Linked DNA regions of Homo sapiens: region 1 is linked to region 2. A link means that fine-mapping ties the variant in region 2 to the expression of a gene that starts in the linked region. Tissue or cell type: whole blood. Region 2 holds a variant in brackets; the other region holds the start of a gene. All regions are shown on one strand. Distances are from middle to middle.

Evidence for each region. PIP is the estimated chance that this variant, and not a neighbour inherited with it, causes the effect.
Region 1: FBLN7 starts here. The variant in region 2 is fine-mapped to the expression of FBLN7 in whole blood (TOPMed, PIP 0.92).

What each region holds. Positions count from the first base shown.
Region 1 is chr2:112,135,295-112,140,440 of GRCh38, reverse strand. FBLN7 (fibulin 7) reads right to left here and starts at 2,056. Exons shown (of 8, transcript NM_153214.3): 1 at 1,711-2,056. The coding sequence starts at 1,785. RefSeq lists an enhancer at 1-239.
Region 2 is chr2:112,175,049-112,180,194 of GRCh38, reverse strand. FBLN7 (fibulin 7) reads right to left here. Exons shown (of 8, transcript NM_153214.3): 4 at 4,356-4,481. Among named protein-coding and RNA genes, the nearest start is that of FBLN7, 39 kb to the right of the region's middle. The variant G/T (reference allele first, on the strand shown) is at 1,926.

The DNA of each region.
Region 1 (5,146 bases), 40 kb after region 2:
CGAGCTCTCAACCCAGGCATCCGAGTGGAAAGTGGCAAGCCCGGGTCCCCCAGCCTTGGTGCTGCCTCCCCTGCGCGCGGGACAGGGGAGAGAGGAAGGAGGGATGCTGGCCTGGAGAGAGGCAGGAGGGACACTGACCTGGAGAGAGGCGGGAGGGACACTGACCTGGAGAGAGGCGGGAGGGACACTGGCGTGGAGAGAGGCGCGCGGGACAGGGGAGAGAGGCGGGAGGGACACTGGCCTGGAGAGAGGCGGGAGGGACGCTGGCCTGGAGAGAGGCGGGAGGGACACTGGCGTGGAGAGAGGCGGGAGGGACACTGGCGTGGAGAGAGGCGGGAGGGACGCTGGCGTGGAGAGAGGCGGGAGGGACGCTGGCGTGGAGAGAGGCGGGAGGGACGCTGGCCTGGAGAGAGGCGGGAGGGACGCTGACCTGGAGAGAGGCGGGAGGGACGCTGGCCTGGAGAGAGGCGGGAGGGACACTGGCGTGGAGAGAGGCGGGAGGGACACTGGCATGGAGAGAGGCGCGCGGGACAGGGGAGAGAGGCGGGAGGGACACTGGCCTGGAGAGAGGCGGGAGGGACACTGGCGTGGAGAGAGGCGGGAGGGACACTGGCCTGGAGAGAGGCGGGAGGGACACTGGCCTGGAGAGAGGCGGGAGGGACACTGGCGTGGAGAGAGGCGGGAGGGACACTGACCTGGAGAGAGGCGGGAGGGACACTGGCGTGGAGAGAGGCGGGAGGGACGCTGGCCTGGAGAGAGGCGGGAGGGACGCTGACCTGGAGAGAGGCGGGAGGGACGCTGGCCTGGAGAGAGGCGGGAGGGACACTAGCCTGGAGAGAGGCGGGAGGGACACTGGCGTGGAGAGAGGCGGGAGGGACGCTGGCCTGGAGAGAGGCGGGAGGGACGCTGACCTGGAGAGAGGCGGGAGGGACGCTGGCCTGGAGAGAGGCGGGAGGGACACTAGCCTGGAGAGAGGCGGGAGGGACACTGACCTGGAGAGAGGCGTGAGGGACACTGGCCTGGAGAGAGGCGGGAGGGACACTGGCCTGGAGAGAGGCGGGAGGGACACTGACCTGGAGAGAGGCGGGAGGGACACTGGCGTGGAGAGAGGCGGGAGGGACGCTGGCCTGGAGAGAGGCGGGAGGGACGCTGACCTGGAGAGAGGCGGGAGGGACGCTGGCCTGGAGAGAGGCGGGAGGGACACTGACCTGGAGAGAGGCGTGAAGGACACTGGCCTGGAGAGAGGCGGGAGGGACACTGGCCTGGAGAGAGGCGGGAGGGACACTGGCGTGGAGAGAGGCGGGAGGGACACTGGCTGGCCTGGAGAGAGGCGGGAGGGACACTGGCCTGGAGAGAGGCGGGAGGGACGCTGACCTGGAGAGAGGCGGGAGGGACGCTGGCCTGGAGAGAGGCGGGAGGGACGCTGACCTGGAGAGAGGCGGGAGGGACGCTGGCCTGGAGAGAGGCGGGAGGGACGCTGGCCTGGAGAGAGGCGGGAGGGACACTGGCGTGGAGAGAGGCGCGCGGGACAGGGGACAGAGGCGGGAGGGACACTGACCTGGAGAGAGGCGGGAGGGACAGGGGAGAGAGGCGGGAGGGACAGGGGAGAGAGGCGGGAGGGACGCTGGCCTGGAGAGAGGCGGGAGGGACACTGGCCTGGAGAGAGGCGGGAGGGACACTGGCCTGGAGAGAGGCGGGAGGGACACTGACCTGGGAAGCCCGCGGCTCGGGGCAGGCGAGGATCAGGAGCAGAAGGAAGAGCGCGCGCGGAGAGCTGGGCACCATCTTGCCAGTCGGAATCCCGCTGCCTGGGAGGGGAAATAACTTTGCCTCCGCTGCCGAGTTTGTCCCAGCGATGCGGCAGCCGTCCCTGCAGGGTGCGGGGCGCCGCGCGGCCGGGGGGCGGCTGGGGCAGGGGGGGAGGCGGGAGGCCCCGAGCGCAGCGCGTCCCGCGGGGATCGGCGCCGCCCGGGCCTTGCGAGGGTCCAGGTGCGCCCGCAGCTGCCCGCACGAGACAGTCCGCGCGAGGCGGGGAGGCGCCGGCCCCTGGGCTAAGGACGAGGGAGGAGGGGCTGCCCGGCCGGGAATGCGCCCGGGAGCGCGCCCAACCCGCGACGCCGAGGACGAGCGCGGGCATCCTCGGGGCCTGGCAGGGATGGGCGGCCAGTGCCCCGCATATGTGCGGGTGACTGGAAGCCCACCCTGGGCGGGTTCACTCCCGACCGTCCTATTTCCCAACCAAGTAGACTGAGGCTCAGTCACCAAGGACAAGTGGCAGAACAGAAACCCAAACCCAGGTCTGTCCTACTTCAAAGCCCACGCGACACCCTCCTCCCGACATTCCTAGAAGGGGGCCAGGAAATGGGCTTCATAAGCTTGACGTGGGGTGGACTGAGCTCTCCATCCGAATAAACTAGTGTCCCTTTAAATAATGCAATGGGGCCGTGAGAACACGCACGCACAGTGAGTAGATACACACACAGTGATACAGTGAGGGGATCTACGTCCTTCTGATTCACTGTCCTCCTTGCTCAAGGGAAGGAGAAACTCAGTTTAAATCGGAGGTCAGGTTCTAGAACATTGCCTGCCTTGCTGAAGTCGAATCAGGAAGTGCCAGGCCGGCATGAGCAGTCTGAAGTCCCCTGCCATCAGGGCTGTGGTACAACCAGATGCCTCAGACCTGAGCTCCCGGAAGGCATGACTGACGTTCTTCCTGGAAGGTTTTCTGAAGGCAGTCACTGCAGATGTCCTGGGACACACAAGTCTGGTCAAGCCCCAGATCTCTTTTTCCTCTTCCACATTTCACTTTGTTGAGCCCACTCAGAGCTCAGGGAACGGGGAGCCCACAAGACTGTGACCACAGAGCAGGAGCTGTTTCCCAGCAGAGGCCAGAAAGGAAAGCTGGAGTCCTGGCTTAGTCCCTTCAAACTGCTATAGCAAAATACCATAAACTGAGTGGCTTATAAACAATAGAACGTGTTTCTCACAGTTCTGGAGACTGGGAGGTCCAAGATCAAGGTGTCAATAGATTAGGTGTTTGGCGAGGGCCAGAGTTCTGGTTCCCGTGTCCTCACAGGGGAAAGGCAGCTCTCTGGGGCCTCTTTTCTGAGGGCACTAATCCCAATTTTGAGGGCTCTGCACTCATGACCTAGTCACCTCCCAAAGGTCCCACCTCCTAATGCCATCATCTTGGGAATGAGGTTTCCAACATATAAATTTAGGGGAGACACCAACATTCAGAACCTAGCCAGTGCCCCAAAAAGCAGGGGACATGGTTTAGGCTGGCCTCCTGGGCATTGGTTGCCCAGGAAATCCTACAGTGCTGCTCCCCCAACCTTCCCATGCAAAGGAGGTGGAACGGGACCCATGTAAATCTTTTTTTTCTTTGAGACGGCGTCTTGCTCTGTTGCCTAGGCTGGAGTGCAGTGGCCTGATCTCAGCTCACTGCAGCCTTGCCTCCCTGGTTCAAGTAATTCTCCTGCCTCAGCCTCCCAAGCAGCTGGGGCTACAGGCATGCACCACCACGCCTAGCTAATTTTTGTATTTTTAGTAGAGACAGGTTTTCACCATGTTGGCCAGGCTTGTCTTGAACTCCTGACCTCAAATGACCCACCCGCCTCAGCCTCCCAAAGTGCTGGGATTATAGGTGTGAGCCACTGCAGCCTGCAAGGGATCCATGTAATTTTATTTTGCATTCCTGGTTGAACATCCTGAAGAGAGACATGGTCATACCCCTGCTTCTCCCTATCCAGGTGGAGAGGACGGGACAGCATGGCCCGATCCAGGGCAGCCTGTGGAGATGGTGGTTTTCTGCCTCGATCTCTCATGTGTTTGCTGTCTGTACCAAAAGCCAGTGCCCTGCTCCCTCTCTGTCTCTCTGTCCTCTGCCCTATCCTTGAAAAGCTTCCTCCTGGTCAGTGTGGCTGCATTTATTAATATTTTGTGTCCTATCCCACCTTGTGTTTACATGGCGACCTTCTCTGGAAGGCCAGCTGTTCTGGCTCTCAGCCTTGTTCTGGCTATGCGCTGGTAACCAGACATCGGGCAGATGTAAGCAAGCCTTCTTTTCTCTTCTCCTGCCCTTTCTGTGGAGTCATAAAGCTGGAAGAGATTCTTGATTTCACAGATGAAGAAGCTGAATCGGGGCATGGTTGACTGACTTGCCCAAGGAATGCAAACTCTGGTCTCAAGATCCCCCTCCCAGAGCGGTGCTGTTTCTAGGACAGACTACCTTTGACTTTATCCCACCTCTCATTTTAGGGCTACTATGTTGCTTATATTAAATACATGATCATAGCATTTCAGGAATTTTATTTACAGTAATGGGGGGTTTTCTGTTTTTTTGTTGTTGTTGTTTTTTGTTTTCTTGGGTTTTTGCTTTTGTTTTTACTTTTCAAATATTTCTAAGTTTCAACAGGATTTTTTTTCCTATGTAATTATTTATATTTGTAACCCTTTCCCTATGGCTGCCTTCCCTCTAAGTGTTCTGGCATCTGGTCTGAATGAACCTTCTAAGATCTGACTGCCCCAGCAGCACTGTCCTTTCTCTGTCTTTGTCCTCAGCTGCCCTGGATCTGCAGTAATCAAGGCAGAGCCTATCAAGTCCAGAACCTACCAAGGCTGTCTACAAGCAGACAGCCCATGAAAATCAGCTGGGTGCTCTACCTTTAAGCCCCCAACCCTCACCTTTAACTGAATACAATGGGCCTATCAGCCTTTTTTTTTTTTTTTTTTGAGACAGTCTCACTCTATTGCCCAGGCTGGAGTGCAGTGGCATGATCTCAGCTCACTGTAACCTCTGCTGCCTCACAGAGGCAATCTATTCTCCTGCCTCAGCCTCTCAAGTAGCTGGGATTACAGGCACCTGCCACCATGCCCAGCTGATTTTTGTATTTTTAGTAGAGACGGGGTTTCACCATCTTGGCCAGGCTGGTCTTGAACTCCTGACCTCGTGATCCACCCGTCTCAGCCTCCCAAAGTGCTGGGATTACAGCCATGAGCCACCATGCCTGGCCCTTATCAGCTAGTTTATTCCTCTATTTCCCCTCTATTTAGTTTTCAAGAGAATATTCCTGAGTGTCGGGGGATTGGTTTGGTGGGGTTCAACATGTCTACAGAAAGTATTTTAAACATCTTTTGGTAAGAT
Region 2 (5,146 bases):
AGAAGTTTCTGTTCATGTACGTTGCCCACTTTTTAATGGGGTTGTTTGTTTTTCTCTTGTAAATTTAAGTTCCTTATAGACGCTGGATATTAGACCTTTGTCAGATGCATAGTTTGCAAATATTTTCTCCCATTCTGTAGGTTGTCTGTTTACTCCTTTGATACTTTCTTTTGCTATGCAGAAGCTCTTAAGTTTAATTAGAATCCGTTTGTCAATTTTTGCTTTTGTTGTAATTGCTTTTGGTATCTTTGTCATGAAATCTTTGTCCATTCCTCTGTCAGGATGGTATTGCCTACGTTGTCTTCCAGGGTTTTTGTAGTTTTGGATTTTACATCTAACTCTTTAATCCATCTTGAGTTGATTTTTGTCTGTGGTGTAAGAAGTGGTTCAGTTTCAGTCTTCTGCATATGGCTAGCCAGTTATCCCAGCACCATTTATTGAATAGGAGTCTTTTCCCCATTCTTGTTTTTGTCAGCTTGGTCAAAGATCAGATGGTCATAGATGTGTGGCCTTATTTCTGTGCTCTCTATTCCGTTCCATTGGTCTACGTGCCTGTTTTTGTACCAGTACCATGCTGTTTTGGTCACTGTAGCCTTGTGGTATAGTTTGAAGTTGGGTAATGTGATTCCTTTAGCTTTGTTCTTTTTGCTTAGGATTGCCTTGGGTATTCAGGATCTTTTTGGGTTCCATATGCATGTTAAAGTAATTTTTTTCTAGTTCTGTGAAGAATGTCTTTGGTAGTTTGATAGGAATAGCATTGAATCTGTAAGTTGTTTTGGGCAGTGTAGCCATTTTAATGATATTGATTCTTTGTATCCATAAGCATGGAATGTTTTTTCATTTGTCTGTGTCTTCTCTGATTTTTTTGAGCCATGTTTTGTAATTCTCATTATAGAGATCTTTCACCTCCCTGGTTAGCTGTATTCCTAGGTATTTTATTTGTGTGTGTGTGGCAAATTGTGAATAGGATTGTCTTTCTGATTTGGCTCTCAGTTTGGTTGTTGTTGGTATATAGGAATGCTAGTGATTTTTCTACATTGATTTTGTATCCTGCAACTTTGCTGAAGTTGTTTATCAGTTGAAGGAACTTTTGGGCCGAGACTTTGGGATTTTCTAGATATAGAATCATGTCATCTGCAAACAGAGATAGTTTGATTTCCTCTCTTCCTATTTGGATGCGCTTTATTTCTTTCTCTCGCCTGTTGCTCTCGCCAGGACTTCCAATACTACGTTGAATAGAAGTGATGAGAAAGGGCATCCCTGTCTTATGCCAGTTTTCAAGGAGAATGCCCATTCCGTACAATGTTGGCTGTGAGTTTGTCATAGATGGCTCTTATTATTTTGAGGTCTGTTCCTTCAATACCTAGTTTGTTGAGAGTTTTTAACATGAAGAGATGTTGAATTTCATCAAAAGCCTTTTTGCATATATTGAGATAATCATGTAGTTTTGCTTTTAGTTCTGTTTATGTGATGAATCACATTTATTGATTTTTATATGTTGAATCAACCTTGTATCCCGGGGAGGAAGCCTACTTGATCATGGTGGATTCGCTTTTTCATGTGCTGCTGGATTTGGTTTGCAAGTATTTTGTTGAGGATTTTTGTATCAATGTTCATCAAGGATATTGGCCTGACATTTTCTTTTTTTGTTGTGTCTCTGCCAGGTTTTGGTATCGAGATGACTCTGGCCTCATCGAATAAGTTGGGGAGAGGTCCATCCTCCTCAGTTTTTTGGAATAGTTTCTGTAGGAATGGTACCAGCTCTTCTTTGTACATCTGGTAGAATTTGGCTGTGAATCCGTCAGGTCCTGGGCTTTTTTTGGTTGGTAGGCTATTTATGACCAATTCAATTTCAGAGCTCATTATTGGTCTGTTCATGGGCCACTATTTTTTGTTCCTGGTTTTTTTTTGTTTGTTTTCTTTTG[G/T]TTTTTTTTTTTGTATTTCTTGTACTTTTCTAAAGTGTTCACATTTTTGGTTTTTGCCAGGAACATAAATTTCTCTTTCTCTCTCTCTCTTTCTTTCTTTTTGAGACAGAGTCTCGCTGTGTCACCCAGGCTGGAGTGCAGTGGCACGATCTCGGCTTACTGCAGCCTCTGTCTCCCGCATTCAAATGATTCTCCTGCCTCTGCCTCTGAACAGCTGGAATTACAGGTGCACGTCACCACACCCTGCTATTTTTTTTTTTTGTATTGTTAGTAGAGACAGGGTTTTACCATGTTGGCCAGGCTGGTCTCAAACTCCCAACCTCAAATGATCCACCCACCTCAGCCTCCCAAAGTGCTGGGATTACAGGCATGAGTCATCATGCTTGGCCAAATTATATTTCTAATCAGGAAAAAATGTTATTTTTCTGAAAGTTTTTCAAGGATTGATGGGAATCAAACACAAGTGGACAAATCCTGCATGATTCTACTTAGATGAGGTCCCTAGAGCAGTCAGACTCACAGAGACAGAAAGAAGAATGAATGGTGATTACCAGGGGCTGTGGGGAGGGCAATGGGGAGTTGTCCTGTTATGGGTACAGAAGCTCAGTTTTGCAAGACAAAAAGAATTCTGGAGCTGGATGGTGGTGATGGTCGCACAACAATGTGAATGTGATTAATGCCACTGAGCTGTACAGTTAAAAAGGATGAAACTGGTAAATTTTATGTTATATATATGTTTTATCATCATAAAAAATAGGGTGAATGGATTTTTAAAAAAGGAATTGGAGGGATGCTCCTCCAGGGAACTGGAAAGGCATGGGCCAGCTGATGGGAAGGAAGGTGTCAGGCTGAGGGACAAGGTGAGCAAGAGCCCAGATGCGTGATGGCTGTTCATGGAGACTATGAGGATAGGAGCTGGCTTTGGATATGCCTGCTTGCTTCCCCTCCTTCCCATTCCTGGGGAAGATTCTGGCCATGGGGACACTTTATAACAGGCCCCCCTGGACCTGAGCAACAATTGTCTAAAGATCCTTGGGCGGGCATGGTGGCTCACACCTGTAATCCCAGCACTTTTGGAGGGCAAGGCAGGCAGATCACTTGAGGTCAGGAGTTGGAGACCAGCCTGGCCAACATGGTGAAACCCCGTTTCTACTAAAAATACAAATATTAGGCAGGAGTGGTGACAGACACCTGTAATCCCAGCTACTCGGGAGGCTGAGGCAGGAGAATCACTTGAACTCAGGAGGCGGAGGTTGCAGTGAGCTGAGATGGTGCCACTGCACACTCCAGCCTGGGCAACAGAGTGAGACTCCCATCTTAAAAAAAAAAAAAAAATCCCACAGTGGGAGGAAACCCTAAAGAGTGGGGTTTAGAACATTCAGTGACCAGGACTGGCATATTTAGGGCAGAAGGGAACCCATTTCTTTTTCCCTCTTGTTTGTAAACAAGGGGAGAGGCAGTGAGGTCTCCAAGAAAGCCCTGTCTCTGGCCTCAGTTTCCATAGAAAGCAGTTCCAGGGACAGGAGCTGTAAGGGGCCTCTGAGCTCGGGAGGACAGCCTCATTTTGAGAAAGTGCCCAGCCAGCTGACTCAGCTGAACTGAATCAGGGCATATTAAGCAGCAAATCTCTTGGGGCACTATTTAAACCTGAGCTTGGGCTGGGTCCAGTGCCAGGATCATAAGTATTGATAAAGCTCTTATCCACTGGACACTGCACTAGCCCCAATGTCCCTTCCCCCCACAGATATTTCATACAGAAATAAAGACAAACAGGCATAACACACCAGACTTTTGTGGCTAAGGAATAGGATATCTTTGGGGCTGAATGAAATCTTGGTTGCATCATGGTGCGGGAACCCCTGTCCATCCTCCACAGATTCCTTATCACTGGATTTTCTTGCCATATGCAAAACCAGGCACCACGTGACTTCTTAGACTCTCTGGGTCGAGATATGTTGAGACTCAAGATGTGAATAGTAATCTCAAAACCAGTCAAATGTATAGTTATCCAGCTCTCAAAATACTTGGGCCTGCATCAATAGCTGCTAATTTTGCAAGATGTAATGGGAACACTGGAAAGAAAAGGTGGTTCTGCTGGCGTAAGAAATGCTGACCAAGCAAAGGTGGCAACAGTGAAACTTCTTGGGCCACATTCCCAATCTAGGGGATTTTTACGTTGGGAGTCAGTTCTTGCGCTTGTGTTTTCTACTATAAGAAGGGTCAAAACTCTGGTTGCATCAAAGAGCTAAGCTCTGTCAAGTGACCACCTTAGAAAACCAGAGGGATCGGTGGATGTGAAACAGAGAGGAAAAGCTACATCTTTGAGTGGGGGACTGAGCTCCCTACATGTCTGCATTTGGGGACCTATGCCTAGGGTCCTCCTCTCCCCACAGCAGGATGTCCTCACCTAACCCCATGGTGGCTACATACCAGTCTGGGCCTGATGCTGACAGCGGTTCCCAGTCCTTCCTGGAGGACAAATGCATCTGTACTGGTTGACTCCTTCTACACATGTACCACCATTTTGACAAGGCTGGCTGGAGCATTCACTGATACCTAGGAAGATAAATAATTTTCAAATATACGGATGTGAGTTCTAGGTCTAAAACAAATACAATAAAAAACTGATGAAGGGTTAACTTCCTTTACATTGTAGGAGAACTCCCACTTTCTACCTGACCCCACCCACTCTTTCCACCCTCTCCACCCGCAAGAGCTGCCAGGGGGCCGATGGGGCTGATATGCAGCCCTATTGCATCTCCATTCAGCAGGCCCTGCACCCAGGCACACACTGCCCACCTGGGGCTCTGCATGCAGGAGCTGGCCTATGAGCTGGCCATACCCCACCCACAGGCACCATTTTCTAATTTGCAAAGGTGCAGTGTAGACAGCTGTAGCCAGACAGAAGTGGCTACCTGTGGGCATCTGCCCACATTGCCTTTGAGTCAGGCCCTGTAACCCACAACCCTTCTGCTCCATCAGCCAGCACCTGGGAGAAACATTTTTAAACAGGAACAAAATTCAGTGCAGTTATAAAGGGGAGGGATGGCCCACTGGAATGTCCAGGGTTGGGGAAAATGAATTCTCCAAATTCCCAACCAGAAGCCCTACTGTGCTTGACCAGGTAAGAGTTTTTTGACATTTCCTTAACATTGGTAAAGGGAGACGTTCCTTGCTCATCTACACGACACTTCTGTGGAAAAGGTCTTTGTAGAGAGAGA